2 linked regions of the Homo sapiens genome follow. The protein of the gene in region 1 purifies or fractionates together with the protein of each later gene. This does not show direct contact. Each region holds a gene or a part of one and is shown on either strand. Other genes may lie near its edges.

Evidence for each region. Proteins that work in one complex are often made in the same cells at the same time.
Region 2: the proteins of FAM177A1 (region 1) and ODR4 purify together in Homo sapiens (affinity purification with mass spectrometry; 3 studies listed by BioGRID and IntAct, with this or other methods). This does not show direct contact.

The regions. Positions count from the first base shown.
Region 1 is NC_000014.9:35,076,642-35,083,878, reverse strand, and holds the end of FAM177A1 (protein FAM177A1 isoform 1 precursor), read right to left. Parts: intron 6,730-7,237; coding exon 6,663-6,729; intron 4,953-6,662; coding exon 4,855-4,952; intron 2,858-4,854; coding exon 2,651-2,857; 3' UTR 501-2,650; downstream 1-500.
Region 2 is NC_000001.11:186,385,392-186,393,021, reverse strand, and holds part of ODR4 (protein odr-4 homolog), read right to left. Parts: intron 7,035-7,630; coding exon 6,939-7,034; intron 4,581-6,938; coding exon 4,474-4,580; intron 3,435-4,473; coding exon 3,398-3,434; intron 2,312-3,397; coding exon 2,171-2,311; intron 1,327-2,170; coding exon 1,231-1,326; intron 1-1,230. UniProt on the Homo sapiens protein: May play a role in the trafficking of a subset of G-protein coupled receptors.

The DNA.
Region 1 (7,237 bases):
TATGTTAATTCAGGATAAAGACTTCAGTTATACATTACATTTAGTTTTTATGAGATGCTGAAAGATTAGAAGAAGGTAAATATGAACTATGATCCAGAAGGAACTGGAATTCTGTTTTTTTTTTTTTTTTTGGAGACGAGTCTTGCTGTGTCGCCCAGGCTGGAGTACAATGGTGCAAACTCCATTCACTGCAACCTCCGCCTCCCAGGCTCAAGTGACTCTCCTGCCTCAGCCTCCCGAGCAGCTAGGATTACAAGCACCTGCTACCATGCCCGGCTAATTTTTGTATTTTTAGTAGAAATCCATCTCTACTAATTCACCATGTTGGCCAGGTTGGTCTCGGACTCCTGACCTAGTGATCCGCCCACCTTGGCCTCCCAAAGTGCTGGGACTACAGGCGTGGGCCACCGTGCCCAGCTGGAACTGGAATTCTTAAAAGGACTGAAAAGGAGATAGGAAAAAGTGAGTGAAAGAGGCTTAAAGTAAGACAAACCATTGAATACATTTATGGGAAATTTTATAGTTTGCATAAACAAAGTATAAACTTAAGGCACAGTGAATAACTATATTGATAAACATAAACTAGCCACTATTGGACAAGTAGCAAAAGTAAAATTCAAGAAACAAAACCTTCATAAGTCACTACTTCCTTTTGTTACAATCATAAAATTTTCTGGGTAAACTCTAGATACTAGTACCTCTAGGGAGACAGGATTCAGAAGATCACTTTTAGACACACCTATCTTCACTTGATAACCAAATAAATATCTGTGAGTGAGAGGTACTATCTCGAATGAAGTTAAAAACAAATTAGAAGGAAAAGGTCAGGTTAGCATGTTTTAGAACTATTGGTAAACTATAATTCATGGGACATTATATAATCAAAAGATTAATATTTTAAGCACTAAGTTATAAAGGGTTTACACCCATGAATAAAAAGATTACCATCACTTACTATGAACCACCATTCCATGAATCCATGTAGCTGAACACTCCTAATGAAAAGTTTAATTATCCTTCAACCTGTAGTTGAAGAACTCAGTTCATGTTCATTGACAGATTTCCATTACAGACCCACTATATTGATGTTACTTTCTTTGACACTATATTTTATATAGATATATTAAAATTGAAAACTTAATGCTGTTTAGAAGGCTATTAATATAACTATTAATTTCTGAAAGCTTTGAGTTTCTGAAAAGGCTTTTAAGATCAAAATTTCTGAAACACTCCACACATTCTTCCTCACCCACATTTAATTATAAATCAATGTTATACTGATAAAAGGTTCTATACACACATTTAGAGATATATGTGTGTGTGTGTGTGTCTGTGTGTGTGTATATATATATACTTTTTTCCCCCCAAGATGGAGTCTCACTCTGTCGCCCAGGCTGGAGTGCAGTGGTGCAATCTTGGCTCACTGCAACCTCCACCTCCCTGGTTCAAGTGATTCTCCTGCCTCAGCCTCCCGAGCAGCTGGGATTACAGACGTGCACCACCACGCCTGGCTAATTTTTGTATTTTTGTAGAGACGGGGTTTCACTACGTTGGCCAGGCTGGTCTCAAACTCCTGACCTCAAGTAATCTGCCCACTTCAGCCTCCCAAAGTGCTGGGATTACAGGTGTGAGCACCGTACCTGGCCATATTTAGGAATATTTTCAAAATTAGCTTCACAATATATACATTTGTAAGGTTTACAAATAACCAAGTAGGTAGAGGAGTGGCCAACCAGATTCAAGTAAACTGTCCAGTCTTCACTGTTGCTACTTCTAAATGATGAATGACGGGTAATTTCATTAGGCTATCATTGCACCTTATACAATATCTAATTGCTCCTGATGGATTAAATCTATACCTGTCCCACTATCCCCCAATCCCCTCCAAACCACTTTTCTATAGGATTAACGCTGAACCGATAACATAACCAGGATGCCACATGGATATTCACTAGGTATTAACATTAATAAATCTATTCTATAAGTAGTGTTTTAATATTATGTTCAAAGCTAGTTATTTGAGTCCTGAAAAAGAATACAAGATTAAGTAAGTGGCTTGCATTAAAAAATGGAAGCCTATCTTAATATCTGGTGTTATAAATACAGATTCTTACATAAAACAGTTATTCTCAATGAAAGAAAATTCAAAGTGCTTCCATCTTGCTCCTTTTATTATATGGTGAAGCATCCTTAGTGTGAAATTAATGGTTAGATATATAAATGCATGGCATAACATGAGAAAATCTAGGAGAAAATATCCTCATTTTAATCTAAGACTATGGAATTATCAATTCCAATTAGACTTAATCAGCAACTTACCTTTTTCAAAAAAAGCAAATGCACAAATAGGCTTGATAATTTAACTCTTCTTAACTATTAAGGCTCTAGGATGTCCTTAACTTTTTTAAAAGATCATTTTAAAACCAAAGCACTAATTTCTATACACAGTAAAAACAGTACAAATATCTGAATTTCAGATCTGGCTTTTGCTAGATAGATCCTAAAAATGAAGAAAACATTTTCCCTTTCCAGATACTTTAATAATTTAAAATATAAATAATTGTATTAAGTCCCACTGAATAAAGAATGTGAAAGTTTTTGTATTAAAAAAAAAAAACTTAAGAGTTTGAAGCTTGATAGTCATTTCATTTTATGGTGGGACAGAGACTGGATTTTGCTTGCTTTCCATAATTACTTCACTGTCTCCCTCCATTTCAAAATTGACATTCACAAATGAGCTGGATATCACTGTCTCTGGTTGATCTGTCTGAACAATGGAATCAGTCTGCAATTTATTCTGTTGATATTGTTTTTCTGCTTCTTCAGACATCCTGTTTTCTTCTTCTTCTTCTTCTTCCTAAAAAAAAGGAGCAATATCAAGAATAGTTGAAATACGAAAGTCCAAAAGGTATATAGTGCTGTTTTCCCCACTGTCAGCTTATGTTTAAAAAAAAAAAAAAAAAAAAGTGTCATGTTCAAATCAGTTTGGTCTAATTAAGACATACTTTCCCTTCTCCTGCTCTCTAATTGAAATAACCACTGTAAAACATTTTAAGGAAAGTAGTTTTTTCTTGTTGTTTGTTTTTTTTGAGAAAGAGTATTGCTCTGTCACCCAGGCTGGAGTGCAGTGGCTCACTGCAACCTCCATCTCCCAGGCTCAAGCAATTCTCCTGCCTCAGCCTCCTGAGTAGCTGGGACTACAAGCACCTGCCACCACGCCCAGCTAATTTTTGTATTTTTAGTAAAGACAGGGTTTCACCATGTTGGCCAGGCTGGTCTCGAACTCCTGACCACAAGTGATCCACCCACCTCGGCCTCCCAAAGTGTTGGGATTACAGGCATGAGCCACCGCGCTCAGCCCAAAAGAGGTTACTTTTTAAAACAGGGTCCAGCACTACATCACGTAGATGAGACCTGAATTAACTTTGACAAGGACTTTATTTTTTTCAGATTAAGTCTAAGCTAAATAAATAAAAAGTTAGCTTCAACTGTATCACTTCAATTGTAGGGTGTCAGTCTATTCGGTTGAATAGGTTGGTTCATTTACTACATGATATATAGCATAGTTAGTTTTCCCATAAGCATCAAATACATAGATAAGGCAGCACCTACCCTCAAGAAGTTTACAACTTAGTAGGGAAGTTAAGACATGTAAAAACAGTATTATGACAGATGTACAGATTTTGAAAGGGTAAATAATTTCTAGTTGCAGAACTACTAAATTCATTGAGTAGGTGGCATTTGTATTGGACCCTGCAGAACGGGTAGTCAGTACACAGTGAGTAACCCCAGAAGATTACTCTGGGGCTTGCTTGAGAATAGAGACCATTTAGGAGGCTAGTATAATAGCCCAGATGAGGTAATGAGGCTCTAAGCAAGGCTTACAGTGTTAAGAAATACTTATTTGTTCATAAAACAGGTTTGAAACCATATGACAAATATTAAGTCAGCTGACCTTTCCAGGCTCATGTCCAGTCACTCCCACATTGTACCTTATGCTCCAGTGACAATAAACTATTATATTTTTGCCATTTCCCCAACCATAACAATGTACCTTCATGCCTCTACATTCTAGCTTTACCTGAATTGCTGCCCTCTATTTGCTTGAAGAATAGCAGATGCCAATATTTGTTGTGCTCACTAGGTGCTGTTCTAAACATTTTATATATTAATGTATTTAATCTGTAGAGCAGCCCCCGAGCATGGATGCTGCAATTCTCCTCATTACAAAGATGAGGAGATTGAGGCTTATAGAGGGGTTAAGTGTTCTGTCCAAGGTTACAAAGTTTTAAGTGGTAGAACGGATTTTGAATTCAAGCCCTTTGGTTCTTGAGCCCATGCTCTTAAGCACTAAAGGCTTTTATTTTTTAAGACAAAATTCACTTCACTCTCACCTTAAGACCTCACTACTTTTAAACTGCCCTCAAATTTTTGTGCATTAACACCTGGCACATACACATTTCTTGTACTTAAATTTTTATCTGTGCCAAACCCACTCCACTTTTCCTATATCCAGTCCATGTGCTCTAAGTATCTTGTTTCTTCATCTTAGAATTAGAATGATAATCCAAAGAGAGGCATGTGAAGATTAAATAATGTATATAAGGCATCTCACATAGCACTAAGACAATGAAATCTAGCTTAGTTTTGCACACAGATCATAGGAAAATTCCAGTTTAAAGGAATTCCAAAATGTATGTTACTTTGATAAAAGAAATTAATGATTCTAGAATGAAATGCCTAGCATAAGAGAGCTACATGTTGGGCAGTTAGAAAATACATAGGCTCATTATGCAACCCATCAAGTCCATAGCAAACCAAACTGAATCAAGAAAATGTAAAAAGGAGGCATACCTCCTTCTTCATCCGATAATATTCATCAATGGCATATTGGTACTTTGGGGTGCTGATACCCAAAACAGATGCAATCTTCTCTCCAAGGAAGTCACACACTGAAAATACAAAAGTTAAAAGACTTATATAATTCTATAAACATTTCTTGAGCACTTTCTATGTGTAAGACACTGTAGGAATACAAGAGTTACTGTTCCTGCTCTCAAGGAGATTATAAAAACCTAATAGATCTATCTTCTGTATATCTTCCCTGATTTTCTTCAAGAAGTACCGGTGGCTTCAAAACTCCCAACAAGTCTTTTCATGTCTGTATTAGAATACTTATCACTAGGTGTATCTGTTATATATCTATGTCTTTAAGAAAAGTGTATACTGCCAGGCATGGCGGCTCATGTCTATAATCCCAGCACTTTGGGAGGCTGAGGCAGGCAAATCACATGAGGTCAGGACTTCAAGACCAGCTTGAACAACATGATGAAACCTCATCTCTACTAAAAATACAAAAATTAGCTGGGCATGGTGGTGGGCACCTGTAATCCCAGCTACTCAGGAGGCTGAGGCAAGAGAATAGCTTGAAACTGGGAGGTGGAGGTTACGGTGAGACAAGATCACACCACTGCACTCCAGCCTTGATGAAAGAGCAAGACTCTGTCTCAAAAAAGAAAAATGTATACTCAGAAAGCTGGGATATCACTGGGCTGGAGGAGGGGAATGGCTTGTAGTATAATACTCACTGAGTGCCTACCATGTGCCAGGTACTGTGAAAGGTTAGGCGTAGAGAGGTTAAAGAACTTAACCCAAACTGATAAGGCAGATCCAAAGTTCAAAGCTAGGTCTGAATCTCAAGCTCATGCTCTTTCCATTACACCAACCTGTCTAGCATATATTCAGTGCTCAGTAAATGTTTGTTGAATCAATTACTATTCACAATTAGCTCTAATAAAATGCAGAAAGTGATAAAAAGCTATGAGGGAGTTAAAAATGGAAGCAGAAGAAAGCTTCATAATTTAAAACCTATATTTTAAATTAGCATTATTAAGTTATAAGTTGATAATTCATTTCCTTCAAATATGACTTAGTCACATCTCAATTTAAGAAATGGAATATTAATGAAATAGAAATATAAATTAACTATAATACAGGCTTTAGAATAAGCAGTGAGACAGATTGAGAATGTTATCAATTGGAAACCAAATGACAAAGCAGCAAAATAGCTGTTAAGAGAAAGGGTTTAAGAACTTGAGGCCGGGCGCGGTGGCTCACGCCTGTGGTCCCAGCACTTTGGGAGGCCGAGGCGGGTGGATCATGAGGTCAGGAGATCGAGACCATCCTGGCCAACAAGGTGAAACCCCGTCTCTACTAAAAATACAAAAAATTAGCCGGGCGCGGTGGCGGGCGCCTGTGGTCCCAGCTGCTCGGGAGGCTGAGGCAGGCGAATGGCGTGAACCCGGGAAGCGGAGCTTGCAGTGAGCCAAGATTGTGCCACTGCAGTCCGCAGTCCGGCCTGGGCGACAGAGCGAGACTCCGTCTCAAAAAAAAAAAAAAAAAAAAAAAAAGAACTTGAAAACCATATCTAAACTAACATAGTCATTTTTCATTCCTCAAAAAATAAACTATATTGGAAGCTGAAGAATGTTTTAATGTGAAGTACAAGTTAGGTTACTATCTCCCAATGCTAGCTAGCTCTTGAGGACAGTGATTAACTCCCTATTGTTTCTCCTTCAGTTTGGAAACATCCTATTTAGCAAAGTTCCTGTTGCTGAAGCATGTTACAGCAATTATACAATATTCAAGCAGAAAAGCAATACCTGAGAGAGTTGATGTAGCAGCCCGAAGCATGTAAAACCATAAGTAGGGACCCCAGGTAAGTTTTGTCTGCAACAAGAAATCATGTTAGCAACATTCATACCTAAATTCATTCCATATATTTAGGCCAGAATGAAGTAGTCAAATACTTGGTAGGCACCGAGAATATTCTATAGGCAGTACTACAAAGAGACTGCAATCCAATCAACAATTTAAAATCTGTAGAGTTAAAATTCCACAAAGATATTTTACATTCACCCATATAACTACCACCACCTTAAGCCCATAGAAGAATCAAAAAAAGATGCAGCCGCTGAAATGGAGTTGGTAATCGCAGTCTGGATTATTTTATGAGTTGACAATCCAGAGCTTTCCTTTCTCCTGTCTTGCTGCATTTTTGTCTCCACTATTTATAAACACAACACCAGAGGGGGTGTTCAGTCAATAGAAAGAAACTTAAGGATGCCATCTGACATACTTATGCTATAGCAGGGAAATTAAGGTTCAGAGAAATTAAGCAGGATATGTAAGGGAACATCAAATGAGCTTTTAATGGTGGGAAAATAAGGGACAAATA
Region 2 (7,630 bases), on another chromosome or scaffold:
CCTTTTCTTTTATTTTGAAATGGAGTCTTACTCTGTAGCCAAAGGCTGGAGTGCAGTGGCACGATCTCGGCTCAATGCAACCTCCACCTCCCAGGTTCAAGCCATTCTTCTGCCTCAGCACCCCGAGTAGCTTGTGCTTACAGGCACCTGCCACCACACCCGGCTAATTTTTGTTATTTTTAGTAGAGACAGGGTTTCACCATGCTGACCAGGCTGGTCTTGAACTCCTGACCTCAAGTGATCTGCCCACCTTGGCCCCTCAAAGTGCTGGGATTACAGGCATGAGCCACCACGCCTGGCCCCTGCCTCCCAAGTAGCTGCAATTACAGGCACCTGCCACCAATGCCCAGCTAACTTTTGTATTTTTAGTAGACACAGGGTTTCACCATGTTGACCAGGCTGGTCTCAAACTCCTGACCTCAAGTGACCCACCCACCTCGGCCCCCCAAAGTGCTGGGATTACAGACATGAGCCACCATGCCTGGCCCCTGCATTCGTTTTCTAAGGATAAAGGCCTCCAGCTCCATCCATGTTCCTGCAAAGGACATGATCTCGTTCTGTTTTAATGGCTGCACAGTATTCCATGGTGTATATGTACCACATTTTCATTATCTAGTCTGTCATTGATGGGCATTTAGGTTGATTCCATGTCTTTGCTATTGTGAATAGTGCTGCAATGAACATAATGCATGCATGTGTCTTTACAATAAAACAATTTATATTCCTTTGAGGGTATAGCCAGTAATAGGATTGCTGGGTCAAATGGTATCTCTGTTTTTAGGTCTTTGAGGAATCAACACACTGCCTTCCACAATGGTTGAACTTATTTATACTCCCACCAACGGTTTATAAGCATTCCTTTTTCTCTGCAGCCTTGCCAGCATCTGTTATTTTTTGACTTTTTAATAACAGCGATTCTGACTGGTGTGAGATGGTATCTCATTGTGGTTTTCATTTGTGTTTCTCTACCGATAGTAATGCTGAGTTTTTTTTCATACGATTCTTGGCTGCATGTATGTCTTCTTTTGAAAAGTGTCTGTTCATATCCTCTGCCTACTTTTTAATGAGGTTGTTTTTCTAAGAAAAACATTTGCCTTTTACTTTAAATCAGAAATCAGAAATGAGAGGTAGATGAAATCAGTTTTCTTGTAGGCAAGGACTAAAAATAAGTCATGTTTTATTTTTCCTTAAGCACTAACAATTTAATAAGATGATTTTCTCTTAACTTACCTGTCCTTCTAATAGGTCACAATCTTCATCTTTAACTTGTCCATTAATCAAATAAACACCATTTTCTATTTCCTTGGCCCAGCGTGTAAGTCCATTCTTAACAGAAACACAACATGGAAATCTTTCAGATACAATGCCATCTCAATTAAACTTCCTATAATCTACTTTGTTCCACCTAATAAATTGAAATATTAAAATCCCTAAATCTCATTACTGCAGCATTTAAATCTAGTTTCACAAATTAAAAAAAAGTATACCCCCATTCTTGATACCTTATTATATTTAATAATAGTTATTTTCTGATCTTTATCCCAGAATAACATTTATGTCACAGACTCAGGAGGTTATTAAGTACATGATCAGTTAAATAAAATTTAATGCCCACTACCTTAAAAAAAAAAGTGAGAAAAAAGCATCAAATAAGTCTAAAAAATAAAAAAAAAAAGCTCTATTTGACATCTTCAATGGGAAAAATGAAGAAAAATAAGATAAAAATAAAAGAATGGTATAGAAATACAAAAAAGAACTGGAAAAAGGAAGACAAAAAAACCTAAGTACTAAGAGAAAGCTAAAAGTCCAAACAGTATAGCTTCTTACATTAATTACATTTTACATGTTAATTAATGAATACTGTTATATTTAGTTTAATGACAAAGCACATAATAATACTTAATCAGCACATAATAAGTACTAGTATATTTAGTCTAACAACTAAATTATTAGTTATTATTAAACTGAATATACTAGTATTATGACATTGTTCCACTTCTAAAAATTTCTAAAAATTTCTAATTTGGCTGCGGTAATAAGTTACTCACATAACAACATTGTAAGCAGAATGTAATTTTTGAGGATTGTAAAATGAATGACACATGTAAGCAGAATAAAAGCAGATTGTTCACTCAGCAATCACTGAAGAAAATTCATTTTACCCTGGTACCTTTGTATTTTTCTCCAGAGTATAGCTGACAGAAGTAGCAGAAAGTGGGATGTGAATATTAATGTGAACTGTACACTCTAAAGAAAGCCATGAGGATGATAATCCACTTTGATACTTCCAATCTGCTGGTCTTGCTGAACTCTAGCAGTGGAGAAGGGAGAAAAATAACTATGATGTAGTCTAGATAAAATACATGGATCAACAAAACATTATTAAATATACAACCTAAATAACGCATACAAACTCATATCTAACATATATGGCTAAACCCTTGATCAAAAGACTATAGGTTGAACTAAACACAAAATAAAGCATGTGTTAAGTTCAGTACTCTTCAATACATCCTTGGCAATACTTCTCCTCCCAATGGTAGGCAGAAAAAGAATCAGAAATTTCCATGTTTAGAATTCTGAAAGGTCCTTTGATCCTCTAGCTTCAACAGTATCAATACTGAAGATTCTGATCTGAAGCAAATAATCACTGAGCAACTCCTAGGTGGCAGGCATTCTCCTTTCTGTCCCATCCTTGCTAATGACACTGCAAAGTTACTTTTTCACAACCCTTTTAGATGCATTAGCAAAGTGCTAATCTGGGTTTTGCTGAATACACATAGCTTGTTTAATAGGCAGTGCAGCTACCAAAAGTCCTCAGTCACTTTTACTACCAGCCTCTCAAATATAAAACTAAATACACAAACAAGGTAGGAGGAGATTAACAAAGATATTTTAACAATTTTTTAAAAAGTTGGCTGGCCGTGGTGGCTCAAGCCCGTAATCTCAGCACTTTGGGAGGCGAAGACAGGCAGATCACTTGAGCCCAGAAGTTCAAGACAAACATAACTAACATGGTGAAACCCTATCTCTATCAAAAAAAACAAAAAACAAAAAACAAAAATAATTAGCCAGGTGCAGTGGTGCACATCTATAGTCTCAGCTACTCAAGAGGCTGAGGTGGGAGGATCCCTCGAGCCCAAGAGGTGGAGGCTGCAGTGAGCTATGACTGCATCACTGCACTCTAGCTTGGGCAAGAGAGTGAGACCCTGTCACGCACAAAAAAGTTTTCCTTATCTGTAATAAAATTAATCATATTTCAAAATAAAAACTACAGTTGTTTGTAGGCATCAATAGGAAGTGATGGCAATGGAAATTATTAAAACTAAATAAAAGCTGAATTTTGATTGAAAATACTTTGTGACACAGAAAAATCTTTAAAGAGTAAATTTCTTACCTTTGGATCATGGATATCATAAGTTCGACAAAATATTCTTCACTAATTAAGGACAGAAATAACCAAAAAAGGCATTATTGGTAACTAAAAGAATATAAACTATCAAAAAATAAACTAAAAAATGCACGCATCCAAAAGTTCTTACAAAATCATAACACTTTAAAGATATGCGTACATATATGTACATGTGTGCATATATATACATATGTGTATATATAATCATACATACAAACTGCTATCACTATAGTACTTGCGGTGCTTGAAAATCATTTCCTACCTTTTATGAATCCCGCTAATTGCAATAAATAGAATCAAAGCACTCGTGAGATTCTTCTCAAATATACACTCTCCATAAGAAAAAGTACCACTGTTTTATATGAGGTCAAACCTGAGACTATTTATTGGATTAAAGGGCTTGTATATGAAACTTTGCAGTTAAATACTAAAGATTTTTTTTGTTGTTGTTAAAAAAAAAAAAAGCCCTGCTTCTGCAGGAATGGTCACTTTTAAAATTCTGTCTTTGGAAGTCCATGGATCGTGTCACTCCTTTGGTGAGGATGACCCTTGCTTGGGAGGTACTCTTGCCCTGGTAAGAGGCCGTGTAACTGGCTTTTAGTGTCATTTCATCTTAGCCAAAGACATAAGAATTTCTCCGATGTCCTATACCATCCAGCTCTGTGCACCTGTGCTTTGAATTGTACATCCTTATCTATAGAAACTGGAGGTGAAAACTTTAACATAATAAAAACATTACTTTGCCTAAGCCATCAGTTAGGCATTTATCTCTGTAGGGAATCTGCTGTGCTTGGATGTACAGGGCAGATAGCTGGTAAAAAATTCAGAATCCTGAGTCTTTCATATTACAGATCTCAAGCTTTTTATCACCTTGGGACATGATTAACAACCATTATTGCTATTATTATTATTGGTGGCTCTAATTCCATGTTATTTACAGAAAAATCTTACAAAACTATGCCTATTTTTTAAATGATGATTTAAATAAATAGCAAAAAAACCTTGCAAGAATATTATTTTGGTACTTTGTACTTTTAAACCATAAACTGAACAAAAGATACTTTTTTGTAGAAGCACAAATGTGAAGTGTCACTCGTTCTGAGACTTCCTCCTCTGTGAAATTCCACAATCTCTTTCTATTTATAGACTTTTCCACAGCAAACATTAGCTGAAAGAGAGAAAAATACACACTAATTGAATGTAAAATGAAAAAAAAAGATGAGTGTTGAAATAGGCAATTATAATGTCCCCAACTCTCATTTAGCTTTAAAATTCCATGATTCTTTATTTATTGGAGAAGGGGTCTCACTATGTTGCTCAAGCTGGCCTTGAACACCTGGGCTCAAGTGATTCTCTCACCTCAGCTTCCCAAGTAACTGGGACTACAGGTGTGTGCCACCATTAATTTTTCTTTTCTTCAAATTAAAGACTGGAGCTAATTACTAACATTTTTGAATTCCTTTTAGGAAATTACAGAAAAATTGGGTTTAAATAAAAAAATTTAATTCACTATCATTAGAGATTAACTGGACACAAAAAATTAATTTGGGGCAACTAGAATTTATATAAACTATAGAACAGAGACTTTAATTAGAATGAGAAATGATAAGTGATTTTAACTAAAGAAATCAAGCATGTCACCCATTTAGCATTTCTTATTTAAACGTCACACAAGACTTAAGGCAATATATAACAACATATAAAATATAGTAATAACAAATTGAAAGTTAAAGTAGAATAGTGAGATAAATTTGTGTCAGAAATAAGAATTATAAAAATGCATACTTGATGTAAGGGGTGGTAATACATTTCGGTCTAAGCTTTCTAACAATAATGTGCAGAGAGAAATCTAATCTGTAACCTAATTCACATGGTCTGTAAGCTAAAAACAATCATCAGAGGAGGCACAACCTTCTTCATAATATAAAAAGAAATTCTTCCGGAAACACAATATTAATGTAATATGATGAATAAAGTCCTTAACAATAATGGGTGACACTGACAAGTTTTATAAGGCTGTTTCTTGTAGTGTTTGTCAGTGTAGCCAGTGGAAACAATTAGATAATTGAAACTCAGTAATGTCAGAGATAAAGCATTTCTAAAGTTTTATATACTTTTTAGGAACAAAAGATACAAAAGCAAGGAAAGTGGGCCTGGCTGTATCTCTCTAGCACTGGGCCCACATTCAACCCCCTCAATTCAGCACCAGCCAAAAAAGGTTGCACAATGAATGCTATTAATATTAAATACGCATAGATTTCGGTTAAATTTCAAAATGCCAAAGAGAATGAACAATTGTAAACAAGGTAAATTTATTTAAGATGGAAAAGTTGGCAGAGGGTTAAACAATTTAGCAGGGAGGAGAATATCTCCATTTTCTTCCCTTACTCCCTTAGGTGCAAATATCAAAGGCTTGAGGCTGGGACATCTGACAGGACAGGTTACAAGACTGAAAAAATCTGTAACATCTGAAGTTCTCAGCTGTATATTTTTTACCTAAAAAATGTTTTTCTGGGATACTGTTGGGGTTGGGTTTTATATGTCTCAAGATTTTAAGGTTCCCCCTCTTTTGGGGTATGAAATACCCTTCAAAAAGTTCATGTGGATCCTGAATGCTAAAAGAGCTGGCTACACAGAATCTACCTTAGGTTTGGGTTTAAGGGAAAACAGCATGTGGACCTTCATATTTACTTTTACACTATGTTACCCAATTCTCTGGTGCAGCAATTAAGCAAAAAACACAGGAGATTTCTGATAGATACTGTGTCCAGGAATAATCTGATTGTTTATGTTTTACTCTCAGGATCTCCGGAGAATTGAGAAGAAGGTAAAGAATTTCAGCACCTATTAATTTCATGTTACAGTAATCACTAGGTACTAAATGGAAGGTGTGACAGAATACTGCTATTGCATAAGAAAAACTGTTTAAAGCATTATAATTTGTTTCCTAATAGTCAGAAATTACCTCTAAAATAAAGATTATTTTAAAATATGTAGTTTTTCTGTCAAAAAGAATTACTTCCACAAAGATGCCTTTTTTACAACAAATTATTAGATCCAAGTGACTTTGAGTTCTTAATATTATAATTAATCATTTGAATTTTTCAATATTTTACAATGAATTATTTGTTTGCATAATTTACATGGAATTACTGTCATTAGTCATGGTTATTATTGAGAAGTAAATAATTTAACTTTTTAACTTGAGGAAAGAATAGCTTTTTCAAATTTGTATGAAATGCCATATGGGCTGATGATAGCCCTGTTTTGGGTAGTGTACTAAATAAAGAATAAAATTACCCATGGAAAAAATAATAAATAAAATGTGTAGTTTTTAAAAATATAAACATTTTTTACACTCAAGATATCCAAGCAATTGAGTGACAAAAGCTTTTTCAATGTAACCCCAACAAAAAGAATTATGGAAAACAAATGTAAATATGCCTAGAATCATTACACATACTCATAATCAGTAAAAATAACATATAACTGATTTCATTAAGAATTTTCGATATATCAAACTTACTCTACGCAGGGCATTTTGAAAATCATTTGCCAGTTCTAAAGTAGTAATAATAAATACTCCAAGAACTAAAAGTCCCCCTGGTAGCATTCTGGATACCTAAAAATAGAAATATATTATTAGCTAACAAATTGGCATTATATGCAATCCTTTCTGTTTGAGAAACTGTCTGCTTAGCATGTCCTTAGCTTTTCACCTTAAAACTACTTTATAAATAAAACTATCTGATAACAACATCCTTTAGCTACATCAATAAATAAATCCTTTTCTCAGGAGATCAAAGACTGAAATATTTTTTCAATGGCGTCCCACCATCAGCTAAATAAAATGAAGTTTTATTTTAGATTGATATTTCAGACTTTCTAGGATCTGGTCAATGATGTTTATACCCTCATTTGACACTACTTTTCCTCAAGTAATTCAAATATTTGTCAAAAACTACTTGAAAAGTAGTGTCAAATGAGGCTATAAACTGTTTTCCATACACATCCTAGGCTTTCTAACTATGTGTCTTTACTCAGGGTGTTCCCTAGGCCGAAACTGACTTTTTCTTATACTTCTGCATGTCTCAACCCTACTGGATACTTCAAAGGCAGCTTGAGGAAGCTGCCTTCTCTGATCTTTTCATCTCTGAACTCCGACAGGGCTTTGGTGTAGTTTTCCCATGGATTTTATCACATAGTCTTATATCATAG